2 linked regions of the Homo sapiens genome follow. The protein of the gene in region 2 purifies or fractionates together with the protein of the main gene of each other region. This does not show direct contact. Each region holds a gene or a part of one and is shown on either strand. Other genes may lie near its edges.

The links.
Region 1: the proteins of FGFRL1 (region 2) and CELSR2 purify together in Homo sapiens (affinity purification with mass spectrometry; 2 studies listed by BioGRID and IntAct, with this or other methods). This does not show direct contact.

What each region holds. Positions count from the first base shown.
Region 1 is NC_000001.11:109,266,399-109,273,670, reverse strand, and holds part of CELSR2 (cadherin EGF LAG seven-pass G-type receptor 2 precursor), read right to left. Parts: intron 6,124-7,272; coding exon 6,029-6,123; intron 5,821-6,028; coding exon 5,611-5,820; intron 5,091-5,610; coding exon 4,907-5,090; intron 4,792-4,906; coding exon 4,663-4,791; intron 4,562-4,662; coding exon 4,381-4,561; intron 4,248-4,380; coding exon 4,080-4,247; intron 3,978-4,079; coding exon 3,851-3,977; intron 3,739-3,850; coding exon 3,538-3,738; intron 3,246-3,537; coding exon 3,071-3,245; intron 2,745-3,070; coding exon 2,632-2,744; intron 2,455-2,631; coding exon 2,375-2,454; intron 2,286-2,374; coding exon 2,159-2,285; intron 2,072-2,158; coding exon 1,949-2,071; intron 1,394-1,948; coding exon 1,266-1,393; intron 1,032-1,265; coding exon 943-1,031; intron 839-942; coding exon 644-838; intron 506-643; coding exon 335-505; intron 236-334; coding exon 1-235. UniProt on the Homo sapiens protein: Receptor that may have an important role in cell/cell signaling during nervous system formation.
Region 2 is NC_000004.12:1,021,463-1,027,507, reverse strand, and holds the end of FGFRL1 (fibroblast growth factor receptor-like 1 precursor), read right to left. Parts: intron 5,306-6,045; coding exon 5,033-5,305; intron 3,868-5,032; coding exon 3,787-3,867; intron 3,692-3,786; coding exon 3,407-3,691; intron 3,198-3,406; coding exon 2,844-3,197; intron 2,604-2,843; coding exon 2,161-2,603; 3' UTR 610-2,160; downstream 1-609. UniProt on the Homo sapiens protein: Has a negative effect on cell proliferation.

The sequences.
Region 1 (7,272 bases), on a different chromosome or scaffold from region 2:
TCGGAGCCTGACGAGTCCTCATCCACCGTGCCTGCCTTGATGCTCATGGCGATGGGCATGACCCCGTTCAGCTGCTCCTGGAGGCTCTGCCGGGGCGGTGGGCGGGGAGGGGGGCCTCCCCGGCTGCCCTCACTAGCGGAGGAGCCCCGGGAAGACCCTGTGCATTGCTCCAGGGGGAGCCGCAGGAGGCTGCTCTTCTCGCTGATGGTGGGCAGACACTTCTTCTTAAGGATGCCTGTGGGCCGGGGCGGGGCTGTGAGGTGCGGCCACAGGAGAATGTGAGGTATGAGGCTGCTGACTAGGGGAGCTCGGCAGCTGGGGGTGCCCCACTCACCTTTGTGAGGCTGGGCAGAAGAGCCTGGAAGGGGGCCTAGGGACCCCTCTCGAGACAGGGCATCTCCATTCTCCCGCAGCCGCTCCTCAGGGGCCCCGTTGCCACTACTCTCTTTTGCTGTGGTCCCAAAGTCTCCTGGCCAGGGGGCCTTGCCAGGCCCTGGGCCCCCATCTGGTGGGGAAAGGAAGTAGATGAGGCCCACAGAGGGCAGATAGCCAGGAGGCCACCACCCCAGTCCTGCTTCCCAAGAACCCCAGGCCCACTGTCCTCCCACTGGCCCCAAAGGCCACAGCCCCAGTGCTGGCCCACCCTTGGGAGTACTGTGCAGGGGCAGTCTCTCTGCTCCAGGCCCCAGCAGGCTATCCCAGCCCTGCTCTCCAGGGAAGGCGGCCTCCTCTTCCTCCTCCTCTTCTTCCTCCTCACTGTCTGATGAGTGGGTAGAGGCATAGGAGCCACTCTGGTCGTCTTCTAAGGACAGGTCACTGTCGGAGTCCGTGTCAGGATCTAGGAGGCCAGGGAGAGATCACAGCCAGCCCAGCCACCTCCACCCACCTTCAGTAAAAGCCAGCCAACTGCCCTGCTGGGTGGCCAGAGCGTTCTGTCCTCACCATGCTGCTGGTCTTGACCTTCCAGGAACAGGCTGCCTGGATCCCCCAGGCCAGGGGGCCCTTGGCCAGGGTTCAGTGCGGACTCCTCCCTAGGAAGATGAGACCATGCTGGAGGGGTCAGCCTGGCCCCTTGCCCAGGGTCCCAGTCTCTCCTCTCCCCTGGGATCCTGGTTCCTGCTGTGGGTCCCTTACAGCTTCTAATCCAAGCTGGCCCCCACGTCAGCCACAGTGTGTGCTCCTCAACTCCCAACAGCTGGCTGGCCTGGGTCCAGCATGCGTGGGCCCCTCCTCCCCTCCTCCACCCTCCCATCTCCGGGATTCACCTCAGCAAGAAGGGGATGTAGCTGGGCTGACTCTTGCCCGAGCGACTGGTGCTGTGCAGAGAGCCGGCCGAGTCTCCGTAGGGCTGGTACAGCCGCCCATCTGCGTAGGGGCTGGGGCAGTTGTAGGACTAGGCAGGGAACAGAGAGGTCAGTAAGTGGGGAGTGGGATGGCTGGCCCCAGGCTGGGAAGAAGGAGGGTGGAGGGAACTTGCCCTAAGTTCCACCTTCCACATGCTCAGGTCTGAAAGAGAGGGCCCTGCTTCTCCGCTGTCCCCATATTGAGGCCTGGCAGTGGTCACAGCTCTGCCACAGCTGTGCTACCCCTGCATGCCCCCAGGGATCCTGGACTCACTATATAATGGCTCTGTAAAAGATGAGACCAGAAATTGTCTCCTGAGAGCACCTTGGGAGACAGAAAATTTACTAAAATTCATGAGAGATTCTCAGGTGCAAGGCACTTATTACCTGATTATCTGTCTCAGCCCCATCTCCCTCAAGTCAAAATCCTACACACCCTTTCCAACATCTCCTCCCCAGGCCGAACACAGCATTTCACCTCCCCTTCCACCTTCCAGGAAGGGATGGAGAAAAGAGAAAGGGGAGTGGGGCCAAAAGTACAGGCTCACTGGGCCTCCTGCCTCTCCCTCCCTTCACCGCCCTCCTGAGACCCCTGGCTCCCTCACCGAGGTCAGGGTGGACTTGGTGGTCAGAGCAGGGTCAGGGCTGGGCTTGCGGCTGCAGGCAAGCTTGAGTGCTTTCCGGACCTCCTTGCTAAGCACCACATAGGAGAGGAAGATGAAGGGGCCCTGGCAGGCAAGAGGCAGCAACGGTCTGTGCATATTCAGGCATCCACAGCCCAGGTGCCTCCCTTCTCCACAGGCTGGGCCAGGTACCTGGATGCAATTGCAGGTAGCAAAGAGGTAGTGGAAGAGGAGGGTGTCGCTGTTGACAGAGAGCAGTGCCAGCAGCCACGTGGCGCTCAGCAGCAGGAGGACGGCGAAGGAGGGCTGCAGGCCCGAGCTGGGGATAGGGACAGGCCATGAGTCCGGCCATGAGACCTCCCATGCTGGTGCCTGCCCATGGCCCAGGCACCCCAACCCTATACTCACACAGGACCTTTCTTCTCAAAGCCCTGCCGCTGGGCAGCACAGGAGGCCCGGGCCGCCAGGATGTACAGGAAGACACTCATCTAGGCAGGGGCAGAGGGCATGGGGTGCTCAGTGGGGACAAACAGCTTCCACCCAGCCCACAGGGCCCCGTGGCCTCAGCTGTTCCTAAAGGGAGTCCTGAGGACACGCGGCCCCAGCAGCAGGAGGACAGCAAAGGAGGGCCACAGGTGACACCCAACCCACCTGCTAGCACTCACCGAGACGGCAAAGGCCACCGGGCCAGCAAAACTCCAGATGAGCGTGTCATAGATGGAGAGCCAGCAGAAGTCAGGGTTCCCGTAGCCCTCGGGGTCCAGGCCCACGGCTAGCCCTGGAGCATGGAGACAGACGGGAGCAGTGGAGGGGTGATGAGGGGCCTGGGAAGTAGGGCTGCGGGCAGGTGGGCTCACAGGGCCAGGCATGAAGCATGGAAAAGGGTTCTGCCCACCATCGGCCCCTACCGATCTCCCCAGGATAAGGGAGTGACGCCTGGGTGGCGGCTGCAGAGTCTGGGTTAAACCAGAGGGACACCTGTGAATAAGGCGGCCTGGGGCATGGGGATGTGGGGCCTCAGGGCCTGTATGTGGGTGGAGAGAACATGGCACAAAGGTGGACCCAGGGATGTGGGACCCCAAGACTGGGAATGGGTGGGAGTACCTGTGATGAAGGCAGGCACGCCCCAGCCCAGCATGTAGTAGAAGCGCATGGGGCCGGTGTTGACATCGCGCACCTCAGTGAGTGCCCGGTACAGGTGCAAGGCCTCCAGCAGAGCCCAGGAAAAGGTGCAGAGGTACAGGAAGTGCAGCAGGATGGCAATGACTGTGCAGGCAAACTGAGGGCCCAGGCCAGGGCAGGTCAGCGACCGGGGCCCGCCCAGAGCACAGGCTCTGCTTCGGGTCAGGCATGGAGGAGGGCCTGGGTGTTGGGAACTGCTTCCAGGGAAGCCTGGGCCAGAGGCAGGTGCTGGGGGATCCCGGGGGAGCCACAGAAGAGGAAACCCTGGGCCAGGTGCTGCACTAGGCACCTTATTAGAGTTCATGGTGCAGGAGCAGGGGTTGCCAGTGGGGGCTGGGGAGGCGGCCTGAGAAGGTGGGGACAGTTTCTGGGCAGTAGGAGCATCTTACAGGGAGGTCAGCCTGGTTGATTCCCAGGAGGAAGACCAGCTGAGCCAGGCCCAGGGCAGCTGTCAGGTTACGTCGGATGCCGTGTTGGTTGGAGCGCAGGATACGCAAGAGAGTGAGGAAGAAGAAGGTGAGCAGAAGGGCAGCCAAGGTGACACCTAGAGCCACGTATGTCAGTGTCTTCAGTGGCAGGATCTCCCCATTCTGCAGAGTAGGTGGCAGGGGGCCAGGGAATTAGGAAGGGCAGGACCTGAGCACCCAGCCCCGTGCCCTGGGTGCCCACCCACGGCTCTGCAGCTGCCCCTGTGGGCCCGACCTCCCGCCGAGAAACGTCCATGAGCACAGCGAAGCTCGTCATGTGGTTGCACTGGCAGCTGACGTGGCTCTCATTGCGGAAGACGACTTCACAGCCTCTGGCCGACCAGCCACCTGTGCCACTGACCCTGTGTGAGGAAGGCAGGGTCAGGGAGACAAGGAGGGTGAGGCATGCAGGGGCCTGGACTTTCAGCCCGAAGCCTGAGGGGGCGAGGGCAGTGCAGGCTCACAGGATTGAATGGTTCCAGAAGACACAGATGGGCTTGGTCCGCTCCTCTGTCTCCAGCAGGCGGAACTGCACCGTGACGGGTTTGTCCAGGGCCCGGGGCAGAAGCTCCTCATCATCATGGACGCTGATGCTCACCACGGGTGTGTTGATGATCGGGCGTTTGGGGACTCTGATGTGGGGCAGTCAGGTGCACAGTCACCACGGCAGTCACATGACTGGGGAGACGCCCCCGACCCCCTCCATGCCTCAGCACTCACCGCCCGACCCATACCCCTACCCACACCTGTCCCCTAGCTGCTGACCTCAAGCTGCGCTTGTCAGGGTCATAGTTATGAGGCAGTAGCCCGGCCAGGGTGCGGTAGATGATGACGCTGGCCACAGCCTCACCCTGGCTCAGCTCCGGGTGCCGTCGCTGTCGCCGTGCCAGCTCCTCTGGCTCCTGGGCCTCTCCGGGGCCTGCGGGCCTGACCACGGGGGGCGTCTCTGGGAGGGGACACTGTCACACTTAGCTGGGCCCTGCTCTCTGTGGAGTCTGCACAGACACTGGGGTCCAGCTCCCAACTCAATCCATGGCCACCACTGACCTCTGAAGACAGACTCAGGCAGAATGACTGTTGTCTCAAGGTCCGGGGGCTGCTCCCCACGCAGGGCCTCGTAGCGGGGCAGCTTGGCCCCAGCAAAGTTCCCTTTGTCCAAGCGCACTACGGAGATGACTAAGGAAGGGGATGGTCACAGATCGGACCTGTGAGGCAGGCAGGACCCCAGCACAGCCGCTCTTGTCGGGGACTCCCTCCACAAACCCCTCCCCAACCCAGGCACCAGCCTTACCAATGTTGGGCGTGACGATGGTGAAGGGGCTTAGGTAGGTGTGCCGCATGTTCTGGGCCAGGGCACTGGCGTAGGCCTCATAGTGCTGGAGCAGCCAGGCGGTGCCACCCTCTGTCTGCTGGATCAGCTCCCAGTGCCGCTTGTTGGCTGTGTCCAGGAGGGCGCTGCCCACCCGCAGCAGATTCTGGGGTGGGCAAGGTCACGGTGGGTGTGCTCACAACCCACACCTGACATCCCCACCATGGAGCCCCGGCCTGTGCCCGGGCCAGTCCCTGCTCCCCACCAGGCCCCTCCCTCTGTGCTCACTGTTGCCTCCCCTGAAATGCTCCTGGACCGCACTGCCCACTCAGGTCACTGGATGCTCTGCCCCTAAGCCCTCCTCCTCATTCTCTACATAAGAGCTTCCCAGCCCTGTGCCTGGACCCACACACATGTCCTGAGATACTGCTTCCTCCCAGCCCATGGTACCACAGGCAGGCCTCTGCTCTGGGTCAGACCATGCCCCAACACACATATGTTACTATGAGAAGGGTTGGGAAGAGGGCTGGGCCAGGGGTCACAGGGTTTCATGGAGGCCTCCTGCCAGCAGGGAGCTCCTTGTAGGTGGGATGGGAGGGCCCCCTCTGCCCCCCAGGTTGCCATGAGCAGGCTCACTCACCATGACCCCTATCTAACCAGCCAGCCCTGCATCCTCCAAGCCCCACCTCAGTGAAGTGCACGTCCTGTGTGGCAGACAGCCCAAAGCCCCGCTGGGTGCTCTCGTGGGCCAGCAGCCGCGTGGCCAGCTGGTAGGCCACCTTGACGTCGCTGCCGAAGTAGCCAGCTGTGTGCTGCGTGGCGTTGCGCAGGAGCAGGGCTAGCTGCTGGGAGCGCCCTGAGTCTAGGCCTGACTCATTCCGCTGTAGCCGCTCAGCCTAGACAGGACGGAGCGGAGGAGCAGGAGTGAGGGCAGGAACTCTGGAGCAAAAGGACCTCAGGAGGTGAGAGACGGCCTCTCCAGCTGGGAGCCCAGGAACACACAGGCTGGAATTCCAGAAGCCCCGTTCTCAAAGATGGGAGTGGGGGCAAGTGAGACTCAGGACGAAGGACAGGGAAAAGATGGAGATGAGGGGGTTCACTTACGAAGCCCTTCAGTTCTGAGAAGGTGATGGACGTGCAGTTGAAGAGGTTTGGGGGGAGCCACCCCCTGTGCTCATCACAGTGGCGCACAGCAGTCCCTGGGGGAAGGAAGCCAAAAGGGCCGGCCTCAGGGAGACACACAGGAAGCCCCTGAGACTGGCTGAGAGGTTCTGCTGGAGGCCAGCACCTCATGGGCCGGGGACAGTAACTAGCAAACAAGGGCCCTGGTGAAACAGGAAGACAGGTATGTAGAACACCAGGGCCAAAAATCTCCGCAAGATCAGTCCACACATGGGCTCTAGGGGAACAGGGCATACGACCTCCTTGAGCCCCCATCCTGCCTGTCTCCAGCCACCACTTTGTGCTCTCCGCCACTTCCTGCCTATGAACCTGCTCATTGCCAGTCCAGGACCAGCGCCAGCCCCCATCCTGGGCTGGGTGTCCTGGGTCAGCAGCCAACACCCCCTACTCCCCAGACTGTCTGCCTTTGTGGTGGCGTAACTCCAGGACTCGGTGGTGAGCTGACGATTGGAACCCTGCATGATTCATCTTTGAATCTCTAGCACAGCCCTATGCCAAGCACAGTGCAGGTTTTTCAGCATTTTTGTTAAGAGTCCAAGATGTGGGCTGGGCACGGTGGCTCACGCCTGTAATCTCGGCACTTTGGGAGGCCGAGGCGGGCTGATCACAAGGTCAAGAGATCGAGACCATCCTGGCCAACATGGTGAAACCCTGTCTCTACTAAAAAAATATAAAAAATTAGCTGGGCATGGTAGCACACGCCTGTAGTACCAGCTACTCGGAAGGCTGAGGTAGGAGAATCGCTTGAACCTGTGAGGTGGAGGTTGCAGAGAGCCGAGATCATGCCACTGCATTGTAGCCTGATGACAGAGCGAGACTCCGTCTCAAAAAAAAAAAAAAAAAGTCCAAAATGTGGTGGGGTGCAGTGGCTCACGCCTGTAATCCCAGCACTTTGGGAGGCCGAGGCAGGCGGATCATGAGGTCAGGAGTTCGAGACCAGACTGGCCAACATGGTGAAACCCTGTCTCTACTAAAAATACAAAAAAAAAAAAAAAAAAAAAAAAATTAGCCAGGTGTGGTGGCGGCCAGAGGCTTAGGCAGGAAAATTGCTTGAACCTGGGAGGCAGAGGTTGCAGCGAGCGGAGATCACGCCACTGCACACCAGCCTGGGTGACAGTGACAGACTCTGTCCCAGAAAAAAAACCAAACCAAAACAAAACAAAACA
Region 2 (6,045 bases):
GGACGCAGTGGGCCTCACGCTTTGCTGAATGCACGAGGGGCCCCGGTGCCTTTTCTTACGAGGCTAACGGAACCCCCGGCAGGCAAGGGCCCCGGGTGGAGCTGGCAGCCCCACCCCTCCTGCTGACCGGGTAAGATGGGGTCGGCCACCGTCGCAGCACCGCAGGGTGGCTGGGAGGGCACTCGGACGGAGCCCTGAGGTCAGAGGTGACCTGAGCCTGGCCCCATCCCCAGCTCTGAGGCCAGTCTGCTGCCTCCTGTAGGGCCACCCACCAAAGCCTGAGGAGGGGCTGGGGAGTGGCCAGGCCCTGCACTGAGGGCCATAGGTGCCAGCCCCAGGACACAGAGAGGGCGCCGCTGGGACAGGGGTGCAGGACGCAGGCCTGGCCAGGCATGTGGGCAGTGCTCACGCCCAACACCACCGAAGCCCAGTATACCCAAACTCTCCCGCCGGGAGGTGCAGTTCTCAGCCCCTGTGGCTCTGGCCCAGCGAGGGGACTCCAAGAGGGTTAGGCTGCTGGTTCTGGAGACCAGGCCTGACACACAGGCACAAATGTGAGCACACACGAGCATGCACACGTGCATGTAGACATGGGCAGAAACACCAGCCTGGAGGGAAAGGATGCACTTTCATGTTTAACAAAATAAATTAAATATACGGGGCTTCAGCTCAAACTCTACATAAAATTACAGAGATCTGGGGCCACCACGACAGTGGGGTGGGGGGTGGTGTCTGGCCTGGACGGGGTGTGGTCATCAGCATGGCTGAAAGACCAGGCGGGTCCCGGGCCCCAGGAGAGACCACAGTCCCTGCAACCCAGTCTTCCTTCCATCATTATTAATATTATCTTCATTTCTTAAATATAAATACCAAGGCCCCTTCTCTGTGTCAGGGGGAGAATGCAGTGGGGATGAGCCACTAGCCATGGGCTCCAGCCTCTCAGGCTTGGGGCTGCTGTGCCCCCAACCCCAGCCCACAGCAGTAGGGGACTCCTGGGCACCCAAGGCAGGTGGCAAAAATAGCCGCCAAGGCCAGGGGACAGAGGCGGGGATGGAGGCGGGGACTGAGGCGGGGACAGAGGCGGGCAGAGTTGGGGGAGTGACGGTGGAGCAGGGAAAGTCCCTCATCAACTATGAGCCTCACGGCACACGTACTGCAGGCTTCACGGCACACCCTCCCAAAAGCACGTCAGTCTGCGTGTGTCCAGGCAGCATATCTGCACCTGTGTGTGCATGTGTGTCCGGAAGTGTGTGCCCAGGCAGCATATCTGCATGTGTGCGTGCGTGTGTATCCGGACAGCATATCTGCACGTGTGTGCATGTCCAGACAGCATATCTGTGCACATGTGTGTGTCCAGGCAATATCTGCACGTGTGTGAGTGTTGAGGCAGCATTATCTGTGTGTGTGTCCAGGCAGCATATCTGCGTGCGTGTGTGTGTCCGGACAGCATATCTGTGCATGCGTGTGTGTGTCCGGACAGCATGTCTGCGTGTGTGTGTGACTAGACAGCATATCTGCGTGTGTCCAGGCAGCATATCTGCGCCTGTGCACGTGTGTCTGGAAGTGTGTGTCCAGGCAGCATATCTGCATGTGTGTGCGTGTCCAGACAGCATATCTGTGCACACGTGTGTGTGTGTGTGTCCAGGCAATATCCGTGCATGTGTGTGTCAAGGCAGCATTATCTGTGTGTCCAGGCAGCATATCTGTGCACGTGTGTGTCCGGATACCATATCTGCACGTGTGTGCGTCCAGACAGCATATCCGTGTGTGTGTGTGTGTCCAGGCAGCACATCTGCGCATGGGTGTGCGTGTGTATGTTCAGGCAGCATGTCCTTGTATGTTCTGGCATGTCTCTGTGCGTGTGCGTGCATTTGGGCAGCTTATCTGTGTGCCCAGGCGGCATATCTGTGCATGTGCGTGTGTGCGTACGTGTGCCTTCAGGGAGCACGTGTGCGCGCATGTGTGTGCATACATGCATCCAGGCAGTGTGTGTGTCTGTGTGTGTGTGTCCAGGGGCTATGCCTCACACACAGACTGCCTGGGGTGCTGGCCATTCCTCCTCGCCATGGGTCCCCTGCCTTCGTCTGCAGCTCCGTCCTCCATCCTCCCAGTCTGCCTGTCTGGCCGGCCCCCCCGTGCCCACTGCAGATACGGTGCCGTCTAGCACTGATAGTGGATGTGCTGGTGGACCTTGCCCTCCACGTGTGAGTGTGTGTGAGAGTGTGTGTGTGTGTGTGTGTGGATGTCTGTGTAGAGTTTGGGGTACAACTTAGGGCCAGCAACTGGGCCTGGGCCCAGTAAGTGCTGGGGGGCTGCCGGAGACCCATGCTCCTCACACAGCCCCACACCAGGGCCAGCGCTGAGGGCGGCCAACGAGGGAAGGTCCTTGTCTCCGCTGCGGTCGCGGGCCGTCCCCGGCGGGCGGTGCCCAGGCAGGGGAGGGGCAGGCGCGGGGGTGCACGGCTTCTTCTGGGCCTGGCAAAGCCACAGGAGCAGGGTGCCCAGGATGAAGACAGCGCCGGCTGGGATGCCGATGACCACGGGCCACGGCAGGCTAGTGGCCGAGGACGAGGAGGCCACAGGTGGCCCTGGCGGTTTTGGGTCTGCAAGAGCGAGAGGAAAGGAGGTAGGGAGGGGAACGCCGACACAAAGACCAGGAGAGCACCCCAGACCCATCCCAGGGGCTGTGGAGACGGTGCCCCTGGGCTGCCCTCCCTCGGCAGATGACCTGGCCAGCACGGCCCGGGAGGGAAGGGTGGGGCCCCACCCGGTGGGTGGGACGCCGGGCCCAGGGGGCGGGTCCGGGCACCAGCATGGTGTGGCGTGGCGTGGCAGCCGCGCACCTGGCAGCACGGTGAGGAAGGCGCTGCGGAAGCTGTAGCCCATGGTGTTGGCGCCAAGGCAGATGTACATGCCCGCATCGTCCTGGCGGGCACGGGTGATGAGCAGCTTATTGAGGTAGGAGCCGTCGGGCCGCGACCACACGTCACCCGTGGGCAGCACCACAAACTTCTGGCCGCCCACATCGATGGTGGAGTTGTGGCGGCCCTCGGCGCCGTACTCCACGCGCTTCAGCCACTGGATCACCGGCTTCACGTCGCTGCGCACCTTGCACTGGAAGGACGTGGTCCCCCCGAAGTCCACCGTCGTGTTCACGGGGTGCGTGCCTGTGAGCACGGGCTTGGAACGGGTCCGCTCTGTGGGAACGTGGCACGCGGGCATGGCTCCTGGGCCGCGCCGGACTCTACCCCGCCAGCACCCTGGGCCCACCAGCACCCCCAGCCCACCACCCCCAAGCCCTGCCAGTGCCCCCGCCCACCAGCGCCCCCGCCCACCAGCACCCCCGCCCGCCAGCGCCCCCGCCCACCAGCACCCCCCGCCCGCCAGCGCCCGGGGCCACACTCACGGATCACATCCACCTTGTAGGTGGCGTTGATGGCGCCCGCGCGGTTCGACACGCGGCAGGTGTATTTGCCGCTGTCCTCCGGCCGCAGGTTCTTCAGGCTCAGTGTCCACTTCTTCTTCCTGGGCTCAGCGGCCTCTGGGCGCGTCAAGGCCTGGTCGTCCTTCATCCACGTGATGTCGGGCCGAGGGTGCCCGCTGGCCACGCACTTGAGCCGCACGGAGCTACCCACGGGCCGTGCGATCACCCGGCGCCTCATCTTGGAGGGCTGTGTGAAGCGCGGTCGTGCTGCGGGGTGGGGTGGCGTGGAGGTCAGAGGACGGGGATGCAGCCAAGGGGCCGGGACAGACGGACGCCCCCCACCCCCGTCACCCCCTGCTCACCCCACTGCTGGCTGGCGGGGTCCTCTTGACCCCCAGAGGAGCTGTCGGGCCCCAGGCTCTCCTTCCCTGGGCTAATGTCATCTGCAGAGAGACGGAGGTGCACAGGGAGGGCAGGTGAGGGGGGCCCTGAGGAGCTCCCCCAACTCCCCCGTGGCCTCTAGCTCCCCCAGCCCCAGCCGGGACAGCCCTGGACACCCAGGCAGGGGGCTGCGCCACACACCCACAGCCCAGAATCCCAGGGACAGCTGGGCAAGGGCCGCTGGCCCACACTGGGCGCAGGTGACCCTGATGGGCACGGGTGGGGCTGGAGGGCCGGCCCCCATTCTGGCTCCGGGGGGTCTGCAGGCCCCGGGGGAGGAGGGAGCCGGGCCCGGCCAGCAGCTGCAGTAACCCTAGCCTACATCAAGGGGCCGAGGGCTGGTGAACAGACGAGACTCTCATACCACCCGGTCATCGTCCCCTTTGAAAGGACTGTGGGGTGGGGGTGGGGGACAGCCAGTTTTCCCATTCCACACAATGCCGAGGGGCAGGGCGTGCTGTGGAATGTCCCCTCCATCCACCCTGTGACAGCCGCTCCTTCACTGAGCCCAGGACCAGGCTGTCTCAGGCCGCACCCCCAGACCCTGCTGGGGCCTGGGCCAGGCTCCTGTATTCAGAAAACGGGCACATGTACCCTAAAACTTAAAGTAGAATTAAAAAAAAAAAAGAAACGGGCCAGCCCAGCTCCCAGGAGCTCCACCCGAGGGCCCCACACCCAGGAGCCCAGCGGAGCAGGCGGGGTGCCGGGTCCCTAGGTATGGAGGGCGTGTCTCTCTGGACACCTGTCCAAGCCCAGCGCCCGGGCCCCAGGCGCAGAAGAGAACAGAAAGGCCACGCATCCCGGCGGCTCCTCTGAACTCCGAAACCCGAGCCTCAAAGTCACAGCCGACGGCCGGCACACCCTGCCAAGGCCTCGGGCCCCAGCCCTTCTGTGGGACCACTGCCTTCGGCTCCCGCCCTCCACCCTCCGCCCTCCGCTGGGAGGAAGGCTCCGAGGCTGGAGCCTGACGGGGACAGGAACGGGACAGGATACCTGGGGGATGGTGGCAGAGGTGCAGCCAGCTGAGGTGGGGCAGGGCACCGAAGGAAGGCTTTCTGCCGGGGGCTGGCTGACTCTCGGGCCCCAGGTGTGTCCCCGTCCGCCCTCCTGCACACCCCTGCCTGGCTCCAACCCAGCCCATGACCTCTGACCGCAGCAGCGACTAACCCAGCACGACGAGGGTGTAGTTGACGCTCAGGCTGCCGAAGCCGTTGGTGGCCTTGCACACGTACACGCCGGCATCCTCCCGCTCCACCTGCTTCACCTTCAGCCCCTGCGGCAGCACGCGGAAGCGGCTCCAGCCGCTGTGGATGGTGCGGCCATCCTTGGTCCACATGGTCAGCGGCGGCGGGTCCCCCTCCACTGGGCACTGCAGCCGCACAGTGCGGCCCAGCCGGGCCACCTGCCGTGGGACCACCTTGTCCGCCATCTTTGGGGGGCCTGCGGGTGGGACCGAGGAACAGTCAGCGAGGAGGGGCTTGGGGTCCGGAGCCGGGGGGGCGGTCAAAAGGGGACCCACGGCCCAGCACAGACCTCGGGCCTGAGCTCCACCTGGGTCACCTGCCCAAGATGAGCAGAGGGGCCGAGGTGCAGTGCCCCTGACCCAGGCCTCAGCTGCCCACATGCACCAAAGCCCTGAGCACTGGCCCAGCAAACACCACGTCAGCAGCCTCTCATGGCCGGGGCAGCCCCGTGGCCCCAGAGGCTGGCTCTTTGAGACACGAGAAGGGAGCAGGGTCCCCAGAGGATGCAAAACAGCTGCGCTTGGTAACTCTCGAAAACCACCAACCAAAAGGGCAGAGTCTCCTTCTGGTCATACAGGAAGCAGCCGTACACCCGAGGTCAGAGGGGACAGTGGCCCCCCAAGGACAAGGGCAGTAGGGGGATGGGGGGCCTGGTGGGTCCCAAAGAGGCCCCAGGCCCCTCACCTAATTCCCACCCAACCATCAGCCCAGGGCCCAGCCGGGCCTGGGCATGGGCCAGCGACCCCACAGCTATCCACAAGCAACCGAGCACGGCGGGCTGCCTGAGCCTGTGCAATGTGTGGATGAGAGTCTGTGCAGCACCCACGTCTGTGTCAATATCAGACCTGAGTTCAGGGACCACAGATGCCCAGGTCTGTCTGCCCACCCCCAAGGGCCGTACCCTGCCAGGCACCTTAGCCTTGAGGGGGCATGACC